Linked DNA regions of Homo sapiens: region 2 is linked to region 1. A link means that fine-mapping ties the variant in region 1 to the expression of a gene that starts in the linked region. Tissue or cell type: rectum. Region 1 holds a variant in brackets; the other region holds the start of a gene. All regions are shown on one strand. Distances are from middle to middle.

Region 1 (8,101 bases):
AGCACTTTGGGAGGCCGAGGTGGGCAGATCACAAGGTCAGGAGATTGAGACCATCCTGGCTAACATGGTGAAATGCCATCTCTACTAAAAAAAAAAAAAAAAAAAAAATTTAGCCGGGCGTGGTGGCGGGCGCCTGTAGTCCCAGCTACTCGGGAGGCTGAGGCAGGAGAATGGCGTGAACCCGGGAGGTGGAGCTTGGGAGCTTGCAGTGAGCGGAGATCACGTCACTACTGCACTCCAGCCTGGGAGACAGAGCAAGACTCTGTCTCAAAAAAAAAAAAAAAAGAAAGAAAGAAAAAAGAAAACATAACCGAAGCTGGGCTCAGTGACTCATGTCTGTAATCCTAGCACTTTGGGAGGCCAAGGTGGGTGGGTCACTTTAGCCCAGGAGTTTGAGACCAGCCTGAACAACAAAGTGAGATCCCGTCTCTACAAAGAGTTAAAAAATTAGCCGGGTGTTGGTGGTGTGTACCTGTAGTCCCAGCTACTGGGAGGTTGAGGCAGGAGGGTCTCTTGAGCCCAGAAGTCTGAGGTTACAGTAAGCTATGACTGCGCCACTGCACTCCAGCCTGGGTGACAGAGTGAGACCCTGTCTCAAAAAGCAGAAAAACCCCACATAACTCTGCTTAGTTTCAAAAGCTCAATTGGAGCTTCATCAAAGCACGCCATCTTGACTGAGATGCAGGGAATCTGCTTGTTCTAAAATCAAACAACTCGAGTGCTCCCACGTGGCAAGTGTTGTCCTGAGCACATTTACCAGATATTCGTCTTAATCTTTGCAACAGTAAAGGATGTATTATTACCTAATTTGGAGGTGACAAAAGTGAGGCTCAACCACCGACCTGCCTGACCTGAGGCTCAAAGGCCTGCCTACCAAGGTGACTGTGAAGCCTCCAATCCTAAGTTCCATGAAGCTTCTCCCATGACACCCCCATCTGTGACACCGTCTTGAATTTCCTTCTACTCACACAAATCTGAGCTCCTTTCCTGAAGGCCTTTCAGGGCTGGCGCCTCAGGAGGGAGCAGTCAGCTTTAAGGGAGGCTTACACGGGGTCCCTCATTACAGAGATGGGCTCTGAGGCTCTCTTCTCTGCTGTAACCCACCTCCATGCCGTGGAGGTGTTCCTTCTCAAGCCCCTCTCAGAGCCCTTGTCCTTCTAGGTGGGAGGCCTGGGCAGCCGGGGACTGCTACCTGTGGAAAGCCTCAGAAGGGCTGAGCACCCCCCTCCTGCTAACAGGAGACAAGATGTGTCCAGCAAGGAGACTGCCGGGCAGCTGGCAGCAAGCTCTCTTCCTCGGCTCAGCCCTCCTTTGTCCTGTCCTTTCATTCTCTCTTCCTAGTGAGAAAGCAGAGAAAGACCGCACTGTGGGGAGGCTGGTTGCATGCTCCTGAGGCCAAAGCAGAAGGGGTGGGCTGGATACTTATTCCTTATGACAGAGTCTGTGCTTTCTGGGGCAGCAGGGAGGCACACGGCATCATGGGAAGGGCAGAAAAAGAGGAAGACACGGCACTTCCACAACACAAGCTGGGCTCTTCCAAAGAACAATTTCCTTCTATGGGATGACTTTGAGGTGATAAAATCTAAGTCACTTAGAACTGGCTCGTGATCCGCTGCAGTGTCTCACTGGGAGCCTCGGACAGAGCAGAACACAGACATTCTCCTGTCCCACGTGGGGTAGCTGGAGGCTAGCAAGTCCCCTTCCTACCAGCAGGAAGCTCTGCTATCGCAGACCGACTACACAGATTCTCTTAACCTTGGGTCATTCTGTTTTGTCTAAAAATTTCAATAAAACTTACAAACCTCTTCTTGAAGCTTTGAGTTAGTCTTTTCCAAGCCATCTATCTTGGTTTGAAGATCCCCAACTGTGCAGCTGTAGAAAATAAGAATATTAAGTAAACATAAACTTATACAAGCTGACTGTTTTCTCAATCTGTAAACAGTAAGAGAGATTCCTAGATTTCCTGTATGAAATGGAAAGGCAGAGGGTCTCCAATTAACTCAGAGAAGATGAGAATTCTAAATATACATTTGCAACATACTTTTCAATAAGTTTTGTCCCGAAAATTTAATCTTTCTTTTTTTATTTTGAGGCAAAGTCTCGCTCTGTCGCCCAGACTAGAGTGCAGTGGAGTGATCTTGGCTCACTGCAACCTCTGCCTCCCGGGTTCAAGCGATTTTCCAGCCTCAGCCTCCCGAATAGCCTAGACTACAGGTGCGTGCCACTGCACCTGGCTAATTTTTTTGTATTTTTAGTAGAGACAGGGTTTCACCATGTTGGCCAGGCTGGTCTCGAACTCCTGACCTCAGGTGAGGCTGCCCACCCTGGCCTTCCAAAGTGCTGGGACTACAGGCATGAACCACTGTGCCCGGCCTATTTCTTTTTTAGTCATCTGGAAAGAGAATTTTTTTCTCCCAACACAAATGGTGATAGAAACCAAAATGTGTTGGCAGTCATATACCTAAAGTAAAATTCATTAACAAGGTATTAGTATTTTTGGGTAGAAGGATCCAAGGTGTTTTTTGTTTGTTTGTTTTGAGACAGAGTCTTACTCTTTCGCCTAGTCTGGAGTGCAGTGGCGCGAGCTCAACTCACTGGAACCTCCACCTCCTGGGTTCAGGTGATTCTCCTGCCTCAGCCTCCCAAATAGCTGGGACCACAGGCGCCCGTCAACATGCTCGGCTAATTGTATTTTTAGTAGAGACGGGGTTTCACTGTGTTAGCCAGGATGGTCTCAATCTCCTGACCTCGTGATCTGCCTGCTTCGGCCTCCCAAAGTGCTGGGATCACAGGCGTGAGCCACTGCGCCCGGTCCCAAGGTGTTTTTAAATCCCTTTTACACCTTCCCCATTTAAAAAATATTATTTAATAACATGTACTACTTTTTTTTGTTTTTTTTTGTTTTTGAAACAGGGTCTTGCTCTGTCGCCCAGGCTGGAGTGCAGTGGTGTGATCATGGCTCACTGTAGCCTCAACCTCCAAGGCTCATGATCCTCCCACCTTGGCCTCCCACCTTGCCACCAGGCCCAGCTAATTTTTGTATTTTTTTGTAGAGGTGAGGTTTCACTATGTCACCCAGACTGATCTTGAACTCCTGGGCTCAGGTGATCCTCCTCCTGCCCCAGCCTCCCAAACTGCTGAGATTACTGGCATGAGCTTCCACACCTGGCCTCTAAGCACTTTAAATGCATCAACTCATTTAATCTTCCCCACAATTCAATGAGGTAGATCCTACTGTTAGCCCATTTTACAGACAAGGCAGCCATAATTTTATATAAAAGAATTCACTCAAGTTCACATATCTACAAAGGGGTGCTGGCATCTGAACCCAGGGAATCTGGCTCTAGAGCCTGTACTTCTGGGCAACAGGTCATGCTGCCAAAGACCAGTCCCTGTTGCCAGTGAGTGGGGGACAAAGAAATAAACTTAGCAAGGCTAATGAACCAAGGCTTAGGAACCGGGGGACAAATATAAAAATACAAAGACACAAAATGAAAAAGGGAAAAAAACCAAAAGATACAGAGGGAATGGAAAGTTTTAAGAGTATACAATTGTCAATTCTGTGCCAACTTGATAATTTAGAAAATACCCCCCAATTGTATATTTTTCTTAAAAATATAGGCCTGACGTGGTGGCTCACGCCTGTAATCCCAGCACTTTGGGAGGCCGAGGCGGGCGGATCACAACGTCAGGAGATCGAGACCATCCTGGCTAACACGGTGAAACCCCGTCTCTACTAAAATACAAAAAATTAGCTGGGCATGGTGGTGGGCGCCTGCAATCCCAGCTACTTGGGAGGCTGAGGCAGGAGAATGGCGTGAACCTGGGAGGCGAAGCTTGCAGTGAGCGGAGATCATGCCACTGCACTCCAGCCTGGGCGACAGAGCAGGACTCTGTCTCAAAAAAATAAAATAAAATAAAAAATAAAAATAAATAAAAATATAAATGACTGGCCGGGCACAGTGGCTCAACACCTGCAATCCCAGCACTTTGGGAGGCCGAGGCGGGCGGATCACGTGGTCAGGAGATCGAGACCATCCTGGCTAACACAGTGAAACCCAGTTTCTACTAAAAATACAAAAAATTAGCCAAGTGTGGTGGCAGGTGCCTGTAGTTCCAGCTACTCGAGAGGCTGAGGCAGGAGAATGGCGTGAACCTGGGAGGCGGAGCTTGCAGTGAGCCGAGATCGCGCTACTGCACTCCAGCCTGGGCGACAGAGCAAAACTCCGTCTTAAAATATATATATATATATAT[ATT/T]TATATGAGAAAAGATATATCCTCAAAAGAAAACCCAGATGAACTAAGTAAAAACTGAAAAGCTAGCAACGTATTGCCTCATAAATGCTTTCAGCTTCATAAATTTTTTTTTGAGACAGAGTCTCACTCTGTCACCCAGGCTGGAGTGCAGTGGCGCAATCTCAGCTCACCACAACCTCTGCCTCCCAGGTTCAAGTGATTCTCTTGCCTCAGCCTCGAGCAGCTGGGACTACAGATGCCCGCCACCATGCCGGTTAATTTTTGTATTTTTAGTAGAGATGGGGTTTCACCATGTTGGCCAGGTTGATCTTGAACTCCTGATCTCAGGTAATCCATCTGCCTTGGCCTCCCAAAGTGCTGGGATTACAATCGTGAGCCATCACACCTGGCTGCTTCATATTCACAAGGGGCAAATAATGCCCATGATCTAGAAGCTAGCTGTTCCCAGGCATAAGGAAAAGCTTACTAATTCATTTTGCAATGCTACATAACCCTGATATGATGGCGGAGAAAGAAAACTATAAAATTTCAGCAAGTCAGGTTTATTTTTATTTTTATTTTTATTTTTGAGATGGAGTTTCGCTCTTGTTGCCCAGGCTGGAGTGCAATGGTGCAATCTCGGCTCACTGCAACCTCCGTCTCCCGGGTCCAAGCGATTCTTCTGCCTCAGCCTCTCGAGTAACTGGGATTACAGGCACGCACCACCACGCCTGCCTAATTTTGTATTTTTAGTAGAGATGGGGTTTCCCCATGTTGGTCTCGAACTCCCAACCTCAGGTAATCCACCCACGTCGGCCTCCCAAAGTGTTGGGATTACAGGTGTGAGCCACCACACCCAACCAGGTTACATGTTAAAAGGATAATTGAATTATGAAAACTATGATCCTGGCTGGGCGAGGTGGCTCATGCCTATAACCCAGCAGTTGGGAGGCTAACCAGGGAAGATTGCTTGAGGCCAAGAGTTTGAGACCACCTTGGGCAACAAAGTGAGACCCTGTCTCTACAAAAAATACAAAAAATTAGCCAGGTGTAGTGGTGCATGCCTGTAGTTCCTGCTACTTGGGAGGCTGAGGTGGGCAAATCACCGGAGCCCAGGGAGGTGGAGGCTGCAGTGAGCCACGATTGTACCACAGCACTCCAGCCTGGGTGACAGAGTAAGACCTTGTCTCAAAAAATCATAATAAAAAATATTATGATCAAGTGGAGTTTATTCCTGTGATACAGGAATGGTCCAGTATGAAGAAGTCTATTAATAAAATACACCACATCAGTAGATTATGGGATGAAAACCATGATTACATTAACGGACACTAAAAGGTATTTTCTAAAATTTAATATCTATTTCTTATAAATACTCTCAATAAACTAGTAATCGACCAAAAAACTCTTTCAAAAAATAGCCAACATCACAGTTAAGAAGAGCCTCAGGCTGGGTGTGGTGGCTCATGCCTGTAATTCTAGCACTTTGGGTGGCTAAGGTGGGAGGATTGCTTGAGCCCAGGAGTTTGAGACCAGTCTGGGCAACATGGCGGAGCACTGTCTCTACAAAAAATACAAAAATTAGCCAGGAGGGGTGACGTGTGCTTGTAGTCCCAGCTACTTAGGAGGCTGAGGTGGGAGAATCAATTGCCTGAGCCTGGGAATTCGAGGCTACAGTGATCTGAGATCACGCCACTACACTTCAGCCTGGGCAACAGAGTGAGACCCTGTCAAAAAAAAAAAAAAGAAAAGTAAAAACAGCCCCAGAGCAATGTGTCCGTAACTGCACCGGGAGGAACATGCCAGCTTCTTCACCTGGCTTTTGGGGCCGGAGAGGTGGCCACTGTGGAGAACTGTAATGTGCAATGTACTCTCTAGAGGGGACTCAGAAAGGGAATAACATGTCTCTCCACATTCCCCACAAATACCTCCAAGGATTAGTGTTTCATGAAACACATCCACAGATTTCCAGCAAAAAAAAAAAAAAAAAAAAATCAAGATAAAGATGCCGGTGATCACTAGTACATTGCTCTGGAGGGCCTAGCCCAGTGGTTTTCAACTCTTTTTTCCTGGCCTAATGCACTGGGTGCTGTGTGCTGATTCCCAGCAGCAACAGTGCTTGCCATGAAGGGATTTCCAGCCACGTGGCTGTGGGGCGAGGAATGGAGAGTCAAGGTTTAATGTAGTTACTTCTGTGTATTATGTAACTGCAAAAAGCACAGAATAAAGATTTCCCAAGAGTTTATCAAGAAGAAATCATACTTCTTCAGTTTGTACAAATAAATGTTGCCTGAATGATGACCCTTTTGTCTTGGTTTGGAAACAAGTTATTTATAAATACGTGGCAACTCGAAGTTCCATGAAGCAATGACAGGATACCGAGTATGTAACTGTCACATTGAAAAAAAAAGGAGTCTTACCTCAAGTGCCGGTTAAGTTCTTCCACATAATTTTTTTGATCAAGGACATCAGTAATTCTTTCATGCCTTTTAAAAGGAGCATAAGAAGGAAGAACTTTTTTTTATTAATGGTTAATACTTTGTAACTGTTCCCCAATATTCCAATCACCTTGTAGAAGTACCAATGTCTTCAAGAAACCAAGAGACAGCCAGAGCTCAGTAACATCCACATCCCAGAGTACAGAGAGAAAGCCAGCCTGGGTCACAGTAGTCAGCGTCTCCAGGGCCAGGCTGCCAGGAGAGTGGGCTCCCTGCAGACCAAGGTTTCAGGATGAGCAAGCAAGGTGAAAACACCAACTTGCCACACGCAAATGGCTCGACACAACCCTTATACTACTGAAGGAAAGGAGCGCACGGGACTTTTCAAAACACGAAGCTCATCAGTCTAAAGTCTAGGCCAGTTTGGATTAAAAAAAAAAAACAAAAAAAACTGGCCAGGCGTGGTGGCTCACGCCTGTAATCCCAGCACTTTTGAAGGCCAAGGTGGGCAGATCACGAGGTCAGGAGATGGAGACCATCCTGGCTAACACGGTGAAACCCCGTCTCTACTAAAAATACAAAAAATTAGCCGGGCGTGGTGGCGGGCGCCTGTAGTCCCAGCTCCTCGGGAGGCTGAGGCAGGAGAATGGCGTGAACCCGGGAGGCGGAGCTTGCAGTGAGCCGAGATGGCGCCACTGCACTCCAGCCTGGGCGACAGAGCGAGACTCCGTCTCAAAAAAAAAAAAAAATATACACACACACACACACACACACACACACACACACACGGAATTTTTTGATTTGTTTACAAAAACGGGATATATGTACTCCTCAGCATCATACTTTCCTCATTCAATATAGTATAGTCTCATTCAATATACCAGTAGATACACTTTATTCTTTCTTACGTCTGCAAAATATACCACAGTGTGGAATATTACATATGTTCCATAATTAATTCAATTATTTCCTGACTGGTAGATACTCAGTTTATTTTCAGCTTTTGACATTAAAAGTATATTCTGTGGCTGGGTGTGGTGGCACACACCTGTAATCCCAGCACTTTGGGAGGCCGAGGTGGGCAGATCACCTGAGGCCAAGAGTTTGAGACCAGCCTGGTCAACACGGTGAAACCTCGTCTCTACTAAAAATACACACAAAAAATTAGCTGGGCGTGGTGGCATGCACCTGCAGTCCCAGCGACTCAGGGAGGCTGAGGAGGAGAACTGATTGAACTCGGGAGGCAGAGGTTGCAGTGAGCCAAGATTGTGCCACTGCACTCCAGCCTGGGCGACAGAGGGAGAGATTCCATCTCAAAAAAAAAAAAAAAAAAAAAAGAAGAAGAAAAGGGTATATTTTGTTAGGCCAGGCACAGTGGCTCATGCCTGTAATCCCAGTACTTTGGGAGGCTGAGGCAGATGGATCAGT
Region 2 (8,101 bases), 41 kb before region 1:
AAATAAATAAATAAATACAAATTTTTAAAAAAGCAGAAGAAAATAAATAAAACACATTCCTATCTTATTGAGGCTAAGCTGTACAAAATGTGTCTTACAAATGATACTAAAGATAACAAATATGTGCTCAATCTCTGGATGGGAAAGGGCTTTCTAAACTTAAAGACAAACCTCAAAGGAACATATCCATGGCTTTGACATCAAGAAATTTAAAACTTCTATATGTCCAAATATTAAAAAGCAATCATAGGCCGGGTGCAGTGGCTCACACCTGTAATCACAGCACTTTGGGAGGCTAAGGTGGATGGATCACTTGAGGTTCGGAGTTCCAGATCAACCTGGCCAACATGGTGAAACCCCATCTCTACTAAAAATACAAAAATTAGCCGGGTGTGATGGTGCATGCCTGTAATCACAGCTATTTGGTATTTTTTTCCTTTTTTTTTTTTTGCAATGGAATCTCCCTCTGTTGCCCAGGCTGGAGTACAGTGGCAGGATCTCTGCTCACTGCAACCTCCACATCCTGGGTTCAAGTGATTCTCCTGCCTCAGCCTCCCAAGTAGCTGGGATTACAGGCGCCCACCACCATGCCCGGCTAATTTTTGTATTTTTGGTAGAGACAGGGTTTCACCATGTTGGCCAACATGTCTGAAACTCCTGACATCAAGTTATCCACCCACCTCAGCCTCCCAAAGTGCTGGGATTACAAGTGTGAGCCATTGCACCTGGCATATCCCAGCAATTTGGGAGATTGAGGCACAAGAATTGCTTGAACCCGGGAGGTGGAGGTTGCAGTGAGCCGAGATCACATACCTGCACTCCAACCTGAGTGACGAAGTGAGACCCTGTCTTAAAAAAAAAAAAGGCATAAATCAGGGCCGAGCATCATGGCTCACATGTAGAATAATCCCAGGGCTTTGAGAGGCCAAGGTGGGAGAATTGCTTGACGCCAGGAATTCAAGACTAGCCTGGGCAACATAGTGAGACCCCCATCACTACAAAAAAAAAAAAAATTAGTCGGGCCTGGTTGAAAGTGCCTTTAGTCCCAGCTACTCAGGAGGCTGAGCTTGGAGGATGGCTTGAGCCCAGGAGTTCAAGGCTGCAGTGAGTTATGATTGTGTCACTGCACGGAACAAGACATTGTCTGTAAAACAAACAAAAAATACCACCACAAAACCACAAAAATAATTAAAAGGTAAGCAAACTGAGAAGAATGTCTGGGGCAACTATCCTAAGGGCTAACAGCCTTAATAAAGAGCTCTGTAAACTGTAAGAAGTATACGAAGACATTAGCCGGGCGCAGTGGCTCACACCTATAATCCCAGCACTTTGGGAGCCCGAGGTGGGCGGATCATGAGGTTAGGAGATCGAGACCATCCTGGCTAACACGGTGAAACCCCGTCTCTAGTAAAAATACAAGAAAATTAGCTGGGCGTGGTGGCGGGCGCCTGTCGTCCCAGCTACTCTACTCGGGAGGCTGAGGCAGGAGAATGGTGTGAACCTGGGAGGCGGAGCTTGCAGTGAGCGGAGATCGCGCCATTGTACTCCAGCCTGGGCGACAGAGCGAGACTCCGTCTCAAAAAAAAAAAAAAAAAGAAGTATACCAAGACATAAAGACCACTGAGGCAAGATGATGAATTTTTTTTTTTTTTTTTAAAGACAGAGTCCTGCTCTGTTGCCCAGGCAGGAGTGCAGTGGTGCAATCTCTGCTCACTGCAACCTCCACCTCCCAGGTTCAAGTGATTCTCCTGCCTCAGCCTCCTGAGTAGCTGGGATTACAGGCACGCGACACCATGCCCGGCTACTTTTTGTATTTTTAGTAGAGACGGGGTTTCACCATGTTGGTCAGGCTGGTCTCTAACTCCTGAACTCTTGATCCACCTGCCTCGGCCTCCCAAAGTGCTGGGATTACAGGCATGAGCCCCACGCGTGGGCTGATGATTAACTTTTTATTTAAAAAAACCTTTGGCCGAGCATGGTGGCTCATGCTTGTAATCTCAGTACTTTGGGAGGCCGAGGCAGGCAGATCACTTGAGGTCAGGAGTTCCAGACCAGCCTGGCCAACATGGCAAAACCCCATCTCAACTAAAACTTAAAAAAAAGTAGCCAGGTGTGGTGGCACACACCTGTAATCCCTCTACTTGGGAGGCTAAGGCATGAGAATTGCTTGAACCTAGGAGGCAGAGGTTGCAGTGAGCCAAGATTGCACCACTGTACTCCAGCCTGGGTGACAGAGTTAGACTGTCTCAAAAACAAAACCAAACAAAAAAACCTTTCATTGCCAGCCATGGTGGCTCACACCTGTAATCCCAGCACTTTCTCTGCGAGGCTGAGGTGGAATGATTCCTTGAGCCCAAGAATTCAAGACCAGCCTGGGCAACAAAATGAGACCCCATTGCTACAAAAAATAAATAAATAAATAAATAAATAAATAAATAATCTGAGCAAGGTGGCACATGCCTGTGGTCCTACCTACTCAGGAGGCTGAGGCAGGAGGATTGTTTGAGCCCAGAAGGTAGAGGCTGTGGTGAGCCATGTTTGCACCACTGCACTCCAGCCTGGGTGACGGGCTGTGTCTCAAACAAACAAATAAAAAATAAAAATTTAAAAACCTTGTTTTAATATAAGTTGGACAATTTATATATAAGAGAATTGGCTATAAGTGTATGAAATGTATTCTACCTTACTACTATTCTTTTTTTTTTTTTTTTTGAGACGGAGTTTTGCTCTTATTGCCCAGGCTGGAGTGCAATGGCGTGATCTCAGCTGACTGCAACTGCTGCCTCCTGGGTTTAAGTGATTCTCCTGCCTCAGTCTTGCCAAGTGGTTGGGATTACAGGCATGCATCACCATGCCTGGCTAATTTTTTTTTTTTTTTTTTTTTGAGAGGGAGTCTTTGTAGCCCAGGCTGGAGGGCAGTGGTGTGATCTCAGCTCACTGCTTCCTCTGCCTCCTGGGTTCAGGTGATTCTCCTGCCTCAGCCTCCAGAGTAGCTGGGATTACAGGCGTGTGCATGCATAGATAATTTTTGTATCTTTAGTAGAGATGGGGTTTCACCATGTTGGCCAAGCTGGTCTGAAACTCCTGATCTCAAGTGATCTGCCTGCCTCGGCCTCCCAAAATGCTGGTATTACACGAGTGAGCCACCGCACCTGGCCGGACTCTCTTCTTGATTACCTCAGCCAAAGTGCCTTCTGAAATGGTACCACAGGTGTGTGCTTCTAGTTCAGTTTGTAGTAGAGGGCCTGGTATGTACCGTCATTCACCCTGCCTGCTCCATCTGCATCCCCCTCACATCCAGCAAGAGTTTTCCTTTACACAGGGTTTACGGCTCCCCTGCTGATCACCTGCCAAAGCCTTCTCTCGGAGATAACACCCTTGCCAAGGCCTAAGTGGCCTTTGAAGATCAGGCCCTGCTTAGCTCTGGGCTCCTGTCTTTCTTTTGATGTCCTCTCTACTTTTTCTCAAACCTGTCAAAACTGGATTCGGACTCTGTGGCACTGGGGTTGGAAACATGCTTTGTCCGCATCTTCCCAGGGTGGCACTCAGGCTTGCACTAGCTAAGGTAGCTCTGCGGCAGGGTCCAGCACTACCTTATTGTTAATTTGTGTATTGTCTGTGTCCACTAAAGCTGGGGTGAGGAAGGCAGCCAAATCAGACATGGGGAGGCCTGGGAGGCTACGGCATCTTAGGTTTTGGGCAGTGCTGCTAGAAACCACGAACATTAGTCATCTCGCAGCATGTGTGCACATGGGGTGACCCGGGGGCCTCCTCGAATGCAGCGTCTACGCCTGGTGAATGGACGCACTCTTACCAATTCTGCTCTGGGAGATGCAGCGGTAACCTACCGAGCGCAGAGGCCGGCGCGCACCCGTGGAGCCCGCGCTCGCGATCCCTCCTCGTGCCAGGGCCCCAGGGCAGTCAAGGCCTGCCGACCGTTAGGCGGGTCAAGGGGTACACAGGGTGCGAATTCGTTAGGCAAAAGCTGGGTACAGGCGCGAGCCACAGGCACGGAAACCTCGCGCCGACCGGGGCCCTAGGCCCGACGACGGCAGGTAAGGGGAAGTGGAGGCACACAGGGCTGGGACGTGCCCCAGGCACCATACGGGTGGCTTCGGGCGCGGGACGTCCGCAGCCCCGCAGCTCCCAGGACGTTCGACAATCTGCAGCTGACCAGCTTCGGCCGGTTTGGGGATAAAGGGAAGACAGGCGGCGCGGGGAGTGGGAACGCCTGAAGGCCGCGCCCCTCCTTTCAGGTCGGCCAGGAGCGCGCCGGTAAGAGCCTGGGGGCAAGGGGTAGAAAGACGCCCACCTCATCACAACCCAGAGCTCGGGACTCCTATACAGTCCCATAGGGAACAGGCGGCCGCCATTCCCCTCCCCCACGCTGGCGGGTAAGGCTAGAGAACGGTTTCAAGGAAGACGCATGCGCATGAAATAATTATAAACCGCTAGGACTCCGAAGTTCAATATTCGCGGGAAGGCGCAGGCGCAACAAAAAGCCCGGCGGGTTTATGGGTGGGGGTGCTGAGCCCAAAACCCAAGCGTGTAATAATCCGCCGGCGGGAGGTGGGCTGGCTCTTGAAATTACGCATGCGCCAGAGCTCTTTGTGACGCAACGGGGCGGTGCGGGCAGCTGGCTGCGCGTGCGCAGAACTCGCACAAGGGACCTTATTTAGGTTGCGCAGGCGCCCGCTGGCCATTTCGTCTTAGCCACGCAGAAGTCGCGTGTCTAGGTGAGTCGCGGTGGGTCCTCGCTTGCAGTTCAGCGACCACGGTGGGTACCGTTTTTGCGAGGATTGTTTGTCCCCATATCTCTGGGAGGGCCACGGGGACCTTGGCGAGCTGCAGGCTGCCGTCGAGAGCCGCGAGTGGTTCGCTGAATCTCGGCACCGCCGCTGAGGCCTGCAGGCCGCGCCGACTCTATTGTGTGAGAAGTCGGAGGAGGCGGAGCGGAAGCGGCCGCCGCCATTTCCTTTCCTCTACGCTGGCTCTCGGCCCGGGCCCCCACGGTTCGGGGCGCCGACAGCTGTTGCTCAGGACAGCTTTGGGGGTCCGGTCGCCGGACGAGGAGGTGTTGGAGTCGCCGGGGTGGGTGCATCCGCCCGGTTTTTGCTCCGTGGGGGGGCGGTGCGGGCCCGGGCGCGCCTCGGAGGCGAAGGACAGCTTAATTGGCGCTCTCAGTTCTGGTCCTCCCCGCTTTGCAGTTTGTTTCGACGCCGGACCGCGTAAGAGACGATGATGTTGGGCACGGAAGGTGGAGAGGGATTCGTGGTGAAGGTCCGGGGCTTGCCCTGGTCTTGCTCGGCCGATGAAGTGCAGAGGTTTTTTTCTGGTGAGTTAGAACTAGGACGCGGGAGTTCGAGTTCGAGGCCGGGGCGGGCGGGCTGGCGGGCGGCCGGGCTGGGGCGGGGCGGGGCGGGGCGGGCCGGGCCGGGCCGGGCCGGGTGGGACCCGGGGCGCCCCCTGGCGAGGCGCGGGCGACTACACTCACCGCTGTGCTGCTCGCGCCCGGCGGCCCGCTGTTACGCAATGGAAATTTCGAAAGCCCCGCCCGTCCTCCTGGCCCTTGGGGGAGTGCGGCAGGTTTGGCAGACTTTGTTTTCTTTACCTATCTTTGAACACCAGCTTTTCTTTTATGGGTGTCTTTTTTTCTTTTTCTTTTGAGTTGGAGTCTCTGTCACCCAAGCTGGAGTGCAGTGGCGCGTTCTCGGCTCACTGCAACCTCCGCCTCCTGGGTTCAAGCGATTCTCCTGCCTCAGTCTCCCGAGTGTCTGGGACTAGAGGCGCGCACCGCCACGCCCGGCTAATTTTTGTATTTTTAGTAGAGACGGGGTTTCACTATTTTGGCCAGGCTGGTCTCGAACATCTGACCTCAAGTGATCCGCCCACCTCGGTTTCCCAAAATGCTGGGATTACAGGCGTGAGCCACCGCGCCTGGCCCGGGTGTCTTTTTTCGAAAGGATAAATTGGCATAGGTGGGATTTCCTCCTCAATCTTGAGAAAATGGCCGAGTGATTAGACAAATAATAGTAATGTTTTGCAATATCTTGAAGTGTAACCTCTTGTTTCCAGTTTTGGTGTTTTCTTAAAAAGGAGCATTCTTCGGAAAGTTAAAATGTCACGTCTTAATTTCAGTTTTCCTAATCAAGATTTGATAATTGAAGAGTGTTTTCTTATCTAGTTCTTAATCTGGCTCACTATACAGTTGAAGACACTGAAGCCCAGGGAAGTGTTTTTGCAGTACATAGGTTTCCTGAATATTTTCTATCAGAATGTCCTTGTTCCTATTATTAGACTGGGAAAAAGAAATTAGACTGATTAAAATTCTATTTGGATGAAATTAACAGCTTTTGGCAAGACGTTTGTAGTATTGACTTACTATCTGAATTTAGCGTTGGTAACGGAAAGCGACCTGTAAAACAAGAACCAAGTACGCTGGAAGCCGCCTTGCAGGGGGCAACACTGGGTTTGGCTTCAGCTGTGCAACTTGGAGCATTTTAGCTTGGTAACACTGATCCCCTTTCAGGTGAGTATTGGGCTTGTAATTTGAATTTGAATGAGAAACCGTAATGTGGCTACTGGTAAGGTAAAACGGATAAATGCCCCAGACCAAAACAGCTCGCAACGAAGTATGTTTGCCGTAAAGTCACACAGTCCAGGCTTGATAATCTTCTGAGAAATTGATAAAAGATGTGTGATGTAGACATGAGTAGCAAGGACTAAAGAGATAAATTCATTCTGAAACTGCTTTGAATATTGTATGTTGTTGATGGGTTGGAAATATATCACCTTAGGAATGAGTTTGTTTTTTTTTAATTGGAGTTTTAGGAGTTGGTAATATCGTGGTCAGTATATATAGGCTTCACAAGTTATGTAATTTGTAGTGGGGACATGGAATAGACATTTCATCTGTGTCACCCAGAGGTGGTTTTAGGTTTTAAATTCTGTATTAACGGTTGTTTTCTTTCCAGACTGCAAAATTCAAAATGGGGCTCAAGGTATTCGTTTCATCTACACCAGAGAAGGCAGACCAAGTGGCGAGGCTTTTGTTGAACTTGAATCAGAAGATGAAGTCAAATTGGCCCTGAAAAAAGACAGAGAAACTATGGGACACAGATATGTTGAAGGTTTGATTTACATTGCCCTAGTTACAGTAAATAAAGCATTAAACAATAGAGGTCTCACCCCTTCTGAATTTTAGGTATTTGACTGCATGGAAATGGTCATCTAAGGGAGTTTGTGGCAGCTCTTCCTAGCTTATCTAAAGACCCAGGAAGTCTGAACTTTGTTATCTAATTTTCCAAAAGTGACTAATTCTAAGCACCTCTTTCAGTATTCAAGTCAAACAACGTTGAAATGGATTGGGTGTTGAAGCATACTGGTCCAAATAGTCCTGACACGGCCAATGATGGCTTTGTACGGCTTAGAGGACTTCCCTTTGGATGTAGCAAGGAAGAAATTGTTCAGTTCTTCTCAGGTATGTAGTCATGTTTGTTGCTGAGCAGTGAGTTTTGGCTAGCTTATGGCAAGGTGATTTAATAGACGTTAAAGTTGAGTAGCTTAGGTATTTCAGTAGGTTGTAAATTGCCAATGAATTAATGTTTTCTTCCTAGAGACCTTCAAATAATTTAAGCCCATCTTAAAGGTGGAAATGAAGTACTTCCAAAATGTTAACTTTGCCTATATTTAGTATTATAGTTCAGAGTAGATCTTTCATTGAGGATTGCCCTCAACAGCTTAACTACTTTCCTCACATTGGTGTCCAGCTAAGTACCTCAAGTTAAAGGTAAGATCCCTTTACCAGCAGATCATCAGTGCGATGAATTAGGTTGTTGTAAATTATGGCAAGTGTCTGTGTTGCAAGAGACACGTATTTGGGTCATGTGACCAGAAGCATCTAATGGTCTAATTCTCTTTAATGCAAAAGTCGGTTTATGAAAGACTTGGTTTAACCTGTGTGGTATAAACTTACTGAAAATCAGATGTAGTGAGAGTAGTTTGAATGCTTGTAGTCTCAGTATCTGAAATAAGTGTTTTGAAATTGTTCCTGGGCCTAAAGTATTTGAATGTTTTTATGCTGAAGAGCTGATAAGATTGC

Direction of the effects. Alleles are on the strand shown, and positions count from the first base shown. SD is a standard deviation of normalised expression in the study named.
For the expression in rectum of the gene that starts at base 4,701 in region 2, allele ATT in region 1 goes with a lower level than allele T (moderate effect, 0.53 SD a copy in CEDAR).

The links. PIP is the estimated chance that this variant, and not a neighbour inherited with it, causes the effect.
Region 2: HNRNPH1 starts here. The variant in region 1 is fine-mapped to the expression of HNRNPH1 in rectum (CEDAR, PIP 0.95).

The regions. Positions count from the first base shown.
Region 1 is chr5:179,579,567-179,587,667 of GRCh38, reverse strand. RUFY1 (RUN and FYVE domain containing 1) reads right to left here. Exons shown (of 18, transcript NM_025158.5): 7 at 6,656-6,721; 8 at 1,803-1,872. The region is part of intron 4 of LOC128966623 (a long non-coding RNA gene); the gene reads right to left. Among named protein-coding and RNA genes, the nearest start is that of RUFY1-AS1, 20 kb to the left of the region's middle. The variant ATT/T (reference allele first, on the strand shown) is at 4,255.
Region 2 is chr5:179,620,271-179,628,371 of GRCh38, reverse strand. It overlaps HNRNPH1 (heterogeneous nuclear ribonucleoprotein H1), which reads left to right and starts at 4,701. Exons shown (of 14, transcript NM_001257293.2): 1 at 4,701-4,777; 2 at 5,208-5,335; 3 at 6,975-7,130; 4 at 7,337-7,480. The coding sequence starts at 5,239. All of the region lies in intron 4 of LOC128966623 (a long non-coding RNA gene), which reads right to left. RefSeq lists enhancers at 3,090-3,874, 3,875-4,660, 4,410-4,704, 4,760-4,929.